2 separate regions of the Homo sapiens genome follow, and region 2 is linked to region 1. Evidence: fine-mapped expression QTL. A gene starts in region 1. The other region holds a variant in brackets. All regions are shown on one strand. Distances are between the middles of the regions.

What was found. PIP is the estimated chance that this variant, and not a neighbour inherited with it, causes the effect.
Region 2: its variant is the best candidate, but not a certain one, in a credible set for the expression of NR1D2 in monocytes after interferon gamma (Fairfax 2014, PIP 0.78).

What each region holds. Positions count from the first base shown.
Region 1 is chr3:23,942,617-23,947,997 of GRCh38, reverse strand. NR1D2 (nuclear receptor subfamily 1 group D member 2) reads right to left here and starts at 2,712. Exons shown (of 8, transcript NM_005126.5): 1 at 2,404-2,712. The coding sequence starts at 2,419. LOC124909354 (a long non-coding RNA gene) reads left to right here and starts at 2,818. Exons shown (of 2, transcript XR_007095845.1): 1 at 2,818-4,343; 2 at 4,918-5,381. It also overlaps a transcript of NKIRAS1 not described here. RefSeq lists silencers at 1,621-2,162, 1,659-2,848.
Region 2 is chr3:23,975,527-23,980,907 of GRCh38, reverse strand. NR1D2 (nuclear receptor subfamily 1 group D member 2) reads right to left here. Exons shown (of 8, transcript NM_005126.5): 8 at 291-3,685. The coding sequence ends at 3,489. Among named protein-coding and RNA genes, the nearest start is that of NR1D2, 33 kb to the right of the region's middle. The variant TG/G (reference allele first, on the strand shown) is at 2,422.

The DNA of each region.
Region 1 (5,381 bases):
TACAGGAGCCCACCACCACGCCCGGCTAATTTTTGTCCTTTTAGTAGAGACGGGGTTTCACCATGTTGGCCAGGCTGGTCTCGAACTCCTTACCTCAGGGGATCCGCCCGGCTCAGCCTCCCAAAGTGCTGGGATTACAGGCGTGAGCCACTGTGCCCGGCCAGTTTAAGGCAATTCTTATTAGACCTCCTGCTTACTGATAGATAGCAGAAACTGTAAACATGGTGGGTAACAGCTTGTAACAGCTTTGAACTTAAGGCCAAATGAACGAGAGAAATTTTAAGAATGGTCATTGTAAATTCCTACACTTCAAGTCATGCAATTATCTGCACAATGAATGAAATCTAACTTCATAATAGTTCACGTGAAAGGTCCTAGTTGACTGCAAGGTTACTGTGAGTCAGCAAAGCAACATGCCAAAAATACTAAGCCTGCCAGGGAATTCATTTGCAACAGGATTCAAGACAAAGAGGGCAACTTGGAACTTGATAATCATCCAACCACTTCCACAAGAGCCTGTTCACTTCTGGGTGCTCCATCCCAAACGGCAACAAGGATGATGAGTGATCAGAAAAAACAATGCTGGGCAAGGACAAAGAGATGAGAACTGTAAATGGAAGAACTGAAGGGGGAAGGGGATGGTCAACATTCATCCGGAGGAATTTTTATAATGTGCCTTGCTCCACGAGGCAAGATTTAGATCAGCGAAGTATTGGAAGAGGGCTCAAACCAGAGAAAAACTTCCTAATTGAGCCAGCCCTTATGAGGTTACTAAAGCTATTAGAATTCATGCTAAAGGGTGGGTTAGAAGAGGTTCACCCTGATCACCTCTGAATTCTAACATGTAGAAGTTTAATTCTATGATAAACTCATAAAATTTTAAAAATACCCTCAAAGGCTAAGTAGGCCGATTAGGTAATCAAAACACAATTAGATCCAGATTTTTGTGAGACAACAGGTTAAAAAAAATAAGTAAATTCTAAAAATACGTAAATAAAATTAGAAAGTGACTTTATTTTTACTTTTGGTGAAAAGTTCACAATACATTTGTTATCGAGGCAAGATTCTTAGAGGCGCATTGCAACTCAAAAAATAAAACAAAAGCTGGCTGTTTCCATAACCTCACTCACTTCAGATCTACCTCATCATTTGGGGCAGACAAAAGGAGGGAAGGGCACCCTGTTGTTCCGTTGCAATGTAACAAAATGTGACAAGAAAAATATTTATAAAGCCAAATTCTCTTGATCAGATTCAGGAAAAGTCAGCGACCCACAGGTTAATTTTTTTTTAATTTAAATGAAGAATGTCCAGTCTTACATATGGTGTTGGAGTCACCTATGATCACCTGAGTCATCCTGACCATACGTGAGCTGCACGCTCAGCTGCGGGTGTGACCCGTTTACTGGAAAACTCCAGCCCGAAGGGATCTGGAAGCAGTTTTTAAGACTGTGTGTGTATGAGACAGGTCGCGTCCTAGAGCAAACGGTTTTTTTTGTAAACAGACGGCATCCTAACAGGGGCGGTGCTACCCAGTCTGCGGGGAGTCGCTCGGGATCGAAGCACCTCAGAGCTCCTTCGAGCGTATCCCTTCGGGAAAGCCCCACGCCTTCCCCGAGGCGCCTCCTCCGGCCTGCAGCACGCCCTCGTCCTGCACTTCCTCCTCGGAATCTGCAAGGTATGCAGCTACCAGCCTCCCCAGGCGCCGGTTCGTTTGGTTTGCGCGGGGTCCGCGCCTTGGGGTCACCTCGCGAAAAGAGCGTGCGGCGTCCGGTGCACTGCGGTGTCAGCGCCCGCTTCGGGGACGCCCCGCCGCGGGGGCTCAGCGGGCGCGCACGCGCGGCCTCCTCCGCAGTGTGCAACCCCGCGGGGGAGGAGGGAATCGCGGCGACGTCACTGCCCCGAGGCTTCCAAAGGGGCGGAGCCTCCCGGGAGGCTGCGGCGCTCCCAGCCAGCGCGCGCGCGCGCGCCCCCGCCCCCACGTGTCCCTGCGGCCCCGGGGAATGTGGGTCAGGGAGCCGAGCGGCCTCACGTGTCCCCGCCCGCCGCCGCCGCCTCAGCGCCCATTATGTAATGCCGCGTCACGCGCCCGCCCAGCCAACCGGCGCCCGCGCGCCGCCGAACGTAAACACAGCGCGCACGTGGCTCGCGCGGCCGGGCCATGTGAGGGGGGGGCCGGGCCGGGCGCCGGCAGGCCGCGCTGCGGCTTTGCAGGGAGACAAGAGGGCGGGCGCCGGGCGGCCCGGGGGGCGATGGGAACCGAGCCAGAGGCGGACACGCGGCGCGCAGCAGCCCACCCCGCCCCACCGGCCATGGGGACACCCCCTGCCGCCGCCCCCCAAAGTGCCCCGCGGGCTCTGAGCGCTCCCTCCGGCCATCCCCCACCCGCCGCAGTCCGGTTCTTACCTGCATTCACCTCCATGGTGCCCTCGCGGAGGCGGCCGGGGCCGCCCGCTTCCCGCAGAGGGGGCAGCGCCGCCGCCGCCGCCTCAGCGCCGCGCCGCCCCGGGCTGGAAGCAGCGGTGGTCGCGGGGCCCCCTCATGGGCAGAGCGGGCGGGGCTCCCGGGCCCCAGGCCGTGCAGCGCACAGCAGGCTGCAGCGAGAGAGGGTGGCGGCGGCCGGCGAGCGGCGCTCCTCGCTGGGTCCCTGACAACAAAAGCGGCGGCGCGGCGGCTTCCTGCAGCCAGCGCACCGCGGCGGCGAGGGCGGCTGACGGGGAGGGCAGCCGCGACCATGTGACCCGCGCACACACCCCCTCCCTCCGCCCGCCCTCGGCCGGCCGCTGCGGCGACCTCCGCCCCGCCGCTCCCCTCCCTCCCGCCCGCTTCCCGGCTCCCCGGCTACCCTTTTCTCCTGCGCTTCCCCCTTCTCCCCTTCCTTCTCCTTGCCGAGCCCCTCCTCTTCCTTCGTTTTTCCCCTCCGTGCCGTAAACCTCTTCTCCGTTTCCCTCCGCCGCATATTCCTCCCCTCCTCCTCCTCTTTCCTCTCCTCCCGGCTGCCTTTCCCGCCTCTGGCCGGGAGTCCTCTCCACGCCCTGCCCCCCAACCTGGTGGCTCTTAGGTCAAAGCGGTGGCTTGGCGCCGAGCAAGGGTGATTCTCAGGACCCCGGCTGGGCCGGCTGGTTCGGGCTTGCTCAACCCTTGCGCCCCCCACCCCCACCCCCCGCTCCCACCCGACCGACCTCCAAACGCTGGTCTCTGAGGGCACAGACCCTTCCCTTTCCCTCTGCACCCTCTAGGTGATTTTATCCAATCTCATAGCTTAAGTAGACCTATGTTCTTGTGATTCCCAGATTTATATTTCAAGCCAAGACCTCTCTTCTAATCTCCAGATTCCTACATCCAGCAGCCCGTTTGATTATGCCGCTTTTTTGCATCTCAGATTTTAGACGGGTGTACGCGTGTGTCCGAACTCAGCTAATGTGCAGTCAAGATCTGGGCGTTTCACCTTGAATGTAAATTTTAGATCAAAAGAAAAAAGCTAGACATAAATTGTATGCGTGCTGAGGTGAATTCTGAGGAAAGTGCATTGATGCCCGCAATTTAAACGCATTACTGAAGTAAGATGGGCTGATAGAGGCATGAATAGATGATATGGTAAGATGTTAAACTTAGGCGATGGGGATATGGGTGTTGCTTGTAAAACTCTTTCCAGTTTGCTCTGAAATTCTTCACTATAGAAGGTGGGGAAAATGTCACGTGGAAGACATATTTACATGTGCAACACCCTATTTCCCCACCCCCCAGGTTTCTTCACCATATCAATATTTACTGTTTTGGTAAATCTGCAAGTTCCTGAAGCCAGCAAAATTATGTTTCTCTCCTAACACTCTCACAGCCTTTTATTCTCCATTCAATCCATTAGCAAGTCTGAGCTATTCTACCTTCAAAATATGTTCAATCCCTGTTTCTCACCGTTGGTATTGCTAGAGCAAACCATTATCTCTTGCCTCAGCTACTGCTCTGGTTCCCTAACTAGGAGAGTGCTTCTTGGGTCCTCCTACAGTCACTTCTCCCCAGCAGTCAAAGTATTATTTTTAAAATGTAAATAAGATCTGATTACTCTGCTGAAAACCCTCCAATGGCTTCGTGTTACACTTTGAAAAAATTCAACGACTTAACCTGACCTGCTTCGCCCTGCACAGATGTGGGTCCTGCTTCTCTTTCCAAGGCTGTCTTGATACCCAAACCCTTCTAAACACAGTTCCCTAATCACGGTAGCCCTCTATTCTTCCCTACTTCTGGAATTTATCACCCTCATGTGATGCTGATGGAAGAGTTCCCCAGGCCACGCTTTGTAGCTTGCTTGCTTTTTCATGTATCAACTACCATCTACTTCTACACAGGTAAAATGAGGTTAATATGAACAGTCTAGAAGGCAGAAAAGAAATCATAAAAGAGGATACCACTCTAAAAAGGCTGTGTACTGTATGATTCCAACTATACGACATTCTAGAAAAGGCAAAACTGGGCTGGGCGCGGGGGCTGACGCCTGTAATCCCAGCACTTTGGGAGGCCAAGGCGGGTGGATCACCTGAGGTCAGGAGTTCAAGACCAGCCTGACCAACATGGAGAAACCCCATCTCTACTAAAAATACAAAATTAGCCGGGGTGGTGGCGCATGCCTGTAATCCCAGCTACTCGGGAGGCTGAGGCAGGAGAATCGCTTGAACCCGGAAGGCGGAAGTTGCGGTGAGCCGAGATCGCGCCATTGCACTCCAGCCTGGGCAAAAAGAGCAAAACTCTGTCTCAAAAAAAGGAAGAAAAGGCAAAACTGGAGACAGTAGAAAGATCAGTGGTTACTAAAGGCTAGAGGGGAAGGAGGGATGAATAGAGCACAGAGGATTTTTAGGGCAGGGAAAGTATTCTGTATGATACTATAATGGTGAATATATGTTTTTACACATTTGTCAAAACTAGAACCTACAACGTCAAGAGTGAGCCCTGGCAGGGCGCAGTGGCTCACACCTGTAATCCCAGCACTTTGGGAGACTGATGTGGAAGGATCAATGAGCCCAGGTATTGGAGAATCGGAGACTAGCCTGGGCGATATGGCGAAACTCCATCTCTACAAAAAATACAAAAATTAGCCGGGTTTGGTGGTGTGCAACTGTAGTCCCAGCTACTCAAGAGGCTGATGCAGGAGCATCTCTTGATCTGGGAGGTTGAGGCTGCAGTAAGTCATGATCTCCCCAGTGCATTCCAGTCTGGGTGACAGAGCAAGGAGATCCCGTCTCGAAAAAAAAAAGAAGTGTATCCTAATGTAAACTGTGGCTTTGAGGCCGGGAGCGGTGGCTCACCCAGCACTTTGGGAGGCCGAGGACGGCAGATCATCTGAGATCAGGAGTTTGACACCAGACTGACCAACGTGGAGAAACCCCGTC
Region 2 (5,381 bases), 33 kb before region 1:
AATAGCAACAGTCCTTGCCAGAATCTCAACTCTAAAATCTTTTTTTAAGCCCTGTGTGTGTGTGTGCATGTATATATACATATATATATATACACATACATATATACACATATACATATATATGTGTGTATATACACACACACACATATATACATATACACACATTTCCCCATGCTGAATCAGAGATTTACATAAAACATCCTGCTATGCTCAGGGGAAAGATACTTGTAGTGAGTTAAATTATTAGTTTTACAAAAAAGGCAAGGTAGATTAGACACCAAACACCACAGTTGGTTAGAAATATTTATTATCCCCTCCCCCCACATACAGATTACTTCTCAGAAACATGAAGATATTATCCATGTCCTCATCAATTACAGTTTGTAGAAAATAAACTTAACTCATATCCCATCAACAATGTATTTCTATCATTTTTTTAAACAATAGCCATTTCATTTTTCCATGTTAGTTCCAGAATAGCTTCAAGTTTTATCTTTTGGATCGAATCCAGTCAATCTTTGTTTATAGGTAACAGTTTCCTAACAGATCCCCTCCCCCAACCCCTAAAAAAATTCTATATCCTAAGTGATAAACTCTTCTTGTACATTCAGCAAACTTTATATTGGAAAAGAAAAAGAATAATTGAGATAGGTATTTACTTTCGTGCACAGTAATAAATCTAGCTGAGCTGCTACACCTTGCTTTGCAAAGATGTTTACATAAAATAAATCATCTCTTATCAAGTTACAATGGTAATTTCTTGAAATGTAGATATGAAAGCTATACACTTAATCCACTGAAATTTCCTTCTAATTTTTTAATCTGTAATTAAACCATCACCATAAGGACAAGCTTCATCCCAAGATGTTCCCCCTTTTCCCCTCAGCTATTTCTATCAACTTGAATCCTCTCTCAGATCATGTAAAGAGATACATTAAAAGCACAGGAAAAAAAATGTTTTAGCTTGCTGACATAATGCCCTTAAGTTTGCTGACATAATGCCCACATTTTAACTTTAAAATGTAAAATCAAAGTTAAAGCATCACTTAATTCATACAGTACATTATTAATCAACAGTGTCCCACCAACTCAGAAGTTTCCTAAATTGGCTGCTTTCTCTGCATTTAGTAAGTTTATAACCAATGACTCAATCAAAGAATGTGCTTGTAATAGGCTGCTGGTTTAATTTTAGAATCAAAAGTTTTATATTGGGCTACTTTCAAATATAGAAATGCTATGAGTGACATATGAACTATTAATTTTGTTTCCCATTACCTACAGGAAGAATTTATTCAAATAAAATTTTACAAGACAAAATGCAAATCTATATACCTATATAGAGATGTATATATGTATATATTGAACCTAACTAAAGTTTTATAAGCAATACTAACATAGTTCTGGTTACACATTCCTAAAGACTTAATTGTTTTAAAGATACATGTTATAAAGAGGCTTATGCAAAAGGCAAAAATTAAGAATCAACATGATCTTTTGAGGTTTTCATTACTTCAAAAAGCTGTTTCTATCACCCATAGAAGAAAACTATGCATTTGTTTATCTTAGGAAAAAAAATTATAAAAAGATAATGCTATCATGTAAAGATTCACAAAAACTATACTGTATATCCCATAAGAGTTATACCTACTTAAGGTAAATCACAATTATGGTTTATATTGTACTACAGACATCACCATCGCCTTTCCTCTTTAATAATGAGAGGGTTTAACTTTTTTTTAACTTACTTAACTAGTGCCACAGTAAATCAAGTCCCAGTAGCAACAAGTTAAACAAGATTACAAAATAAGGCATTCTGCTCACACGTCATGAAAGTAACAGGCTTAGTACAGTAAAGCGGGCTGTTATCATTTTTGCAATTTTATATAATCCAAACATTATACAGAAGGCAATCTTTACCAAAAAATCCAATTAATTGCTATTTTCCAGGTAAACAGGAAAACATACATAAAATCCTCAACTTTGGCTATTTCTCCTACTACCATAAACAGATGCTGATCTTATCTACTTAATCAAGTCCACTATTAGAAATGTGGATAAAATGTCTTTGACTATACCATTTCTAAGCCTGTAGGTCACACACTAGATGATTTTTCAAATTATAAATTAAATCTAATATGACAAAATCCCTGTAGTGTTATTTAGGAAAAAAGAAGTGGACTCAGAACATACACACGCACGCACACACACACATGCCATCATATTAAACAGTTGCTTTAAACATTAATTAGTTCTTCAGAAAGAATAAAAATTCTTTAACATCAAGCTGCAGCATGTGTATAAGGGGCAGCAATGCAACCTTTCTCAGCACAAGGTAAGAATATGAATCAACTTTTAAACAACTAGTACCCTGAACCAAAGATTTTGCCAAAGATGAACTCTAAAATACATGTTTTTTTTTTT[TG/G]TCGTTGAAATTTGGATTCAATTGCCTGTTGCACTTTTACATTAAGTGTTGCTTAAATAAACAAAAATAGAGCATAAATTCAATATTCTACTGTCTAAACATTTTAAAGCAATGGTTATGCCATCATAAACAAGTAAAATGCACCTAATTTGGGTCTTTTGACACCTCTTGTTTTAAGTTTCCTGTATGATAAAGTTCTTCACAGTTTAAAATATTGTGAAGAAATATATTTAACTATATTCACATACATATTATGTACATGTACTATGTCTTTGTTGTACCCATAAACTTTGAATACGTGTGTATCAGTAGGATACCCCACACATATGGCAGGAACCCTGAATAATATGGTTGGTGTGGACTGAAATGATTTCCCAGAAAGGCTTAGAAATAAGAAAAGAATATTATTATGAATAATTGTAATAACAGAAATTTTACCTTATTTACATAGTGCCTATCTCCCAAGAGGTAAATATGCTTTACAGACATTTTTTAGTAACTCTGTGAGGTGGGGCATTGGGGACACCATCAATTCTCATTTTCCGCAAGCAAGTAAACTACCCAGGACCACACACTTTAGCAGTGGTAGAGTAAATACAGACATGGAGATCTCCTAAATCCCGAAGTCTCCAATTACCAGATCAAATAGTCTTGTGGTAGTAATAAGATTTCCATCATTCAACAGAACTCCTACCACAAAGGATTAATTTCTAAGTCCTCATACACTTGTGATTGTGCGTTATATTGATAACCACAGGGAGATCAAAATGGTTTTTGGTTTTGGCAGATGAAAAAGTCTAACATTCAGTGTGATTATACTTCAGTGTAACTTCTCCAGTTTAAGTGCGACACAGCTGATTGGTCTATCAGGGAGATGCAGTCAACGTCTAATCATGGCTGAAGAGTTCTCAATCCGAACAGCTATTGCATGATTACAGAGATAGCCTACAATCTTTTATTGTCTTAAAGGTCTTTTCTATCTCCACATATGGTATACACATATAAATATGCATTTTAGCACAAAATGTACAGTTACCATCAGTTCATGTTTAAATAAACAAAGGCCTTAAGGGTGAACTTTAAAGGCCAAGAGCTCCTCAGAGTGCATGTTGTTTAAAGATCGAAGATCTGGCAACTTTAGAAGCAGTTTTGTAAAAATAGAGGCCTCATTTGGATGGTTTTTCATTATTAAGGTCCTTAGTGCACGAATGAGAGTTTCCTGCAAAGCCTCCACAGAGTTGACGTTTTCTATTCCAGATCGATCTAAGAGAGATCAGGAATAGGGAAATAGGAAAAACAGGATAAATTATTAACATTAAATATAAATAAAATTCTTGCTTATCAGTGTCACTAACGAATAGAAAGCAAGGTTTTATACATCTGAATAAAGGCAAAAGTTGACAAATTTCTCAAAATCTCAGTAACAAATCGTTAGCTAGTTACTATATTATAAAGCATATATATCACATAAAACATTTGATCAATCAAAATTCTTTACTGTTAAGAATTTTTATTCACAAGAACATAGAGGTTCTGACTTTTTAAAATTAGATGTCATCTGATTTCAACTGCTTCTAATTAGCAAAATAAAATAATGTAGTATATAAACATATTTTCAATACATATGGAATACACTCCCATTTGTATGTCACCATGTGTGGTAGGCAGCCCCTAAAATGGCCTCCAATGATCCCTTCATCCTGGTATTCGCACCCTTGCGCAACCTCCTCCTACTAAGTGGACCTAGACTTACTAACTTCTAATGAAAAAAAATATGGCAGAATTGATAGGATGTCCGTTCTGAGATTAGCTTACAAGAAACTGTGGCCTCCATCTTAGGTACGCTCTTGCTCACTTACTCTGAGAAAAGCTGCTGCCATGCTGTGAGCCACCCTGTGGAGAGGCCCACATGGCAAGGAACTAAGAGTGGGCTCTAGCCAACAGTCAGCAAGCAACTGAGGTGCTCAGTCCAACAGCTTGCAAGGAACTCAATCTTGCCGATAACTACATACAACTGAAAGCAGATCCTTCCCTACTCAAGCCTTCATATGAGACCACAGCCCTGTCCACAGCTTAACTATAACCTCCTAAGAAACCCTGAGTCAGAGGCACATATCATATCCTATCTCTCATATCATATCTTAACCCTCAAAAACTGTGAGATTAAATAAATGTTTGCATTTGTAAGCCCCTGAATTTTGGGACAATTTGTTATGCAGTAATAGGTAACTAATACACTATGCAACTTTATTGCTATGTAACCCTACATTCACTTTCATTTAGCATATTGTGTTTATTAAATTTGTCATACAATATGTTTATAAACCAGTCATTTGGCATAAGCCTGCAATAAAGTATCTTAAAATCAGGCAAACCTATGTAGATCACCCATAGATGTTTTCATCAGCAAGAGTATTTTTTTCCCTTTACAACAGGAGGCAGGAGTATACAAAAATATTCAATGGTCCCCCACATGGGAGGTTGTAATTAACAAGAAAAAGATTTCTAACTTCTACAAGGAATCAAAACTTCTGGCCATTCATGCCCTTTCGTTTTTTTACAAGGATATTGAGGAGGTCTTCCATTATAAGTGATAGCTGAAAAAGGTCATTTGCCATGAAAGCACTTAAAACAAGGACTAAAATTTAATAGTAAAGGGCAAAAAAAGAAAAATTTGATTAACTCTAAATGCAGAAGAATGATAAAAATAAGTTTTATCTTTTTTTTTGAGATGGAGTTTCACTCTGTCACCCAGGCTGGAATGCAGTGGTGCGATCTCGGCTCACTACAACCTCTGCCTCCCGAGTTCAAGCAATTATCTGCCTCAGCCTCCTGAGTAGCTGGGATTACAGGCACCCACCACCACACCTGGCTCATTTTCGTATTTTTAGTTTCACCATCTTGGCCAGGCTGGCCTTGAACTCCTGACCTTGTGATCCACCCGCCTCGGCCTCCGAAA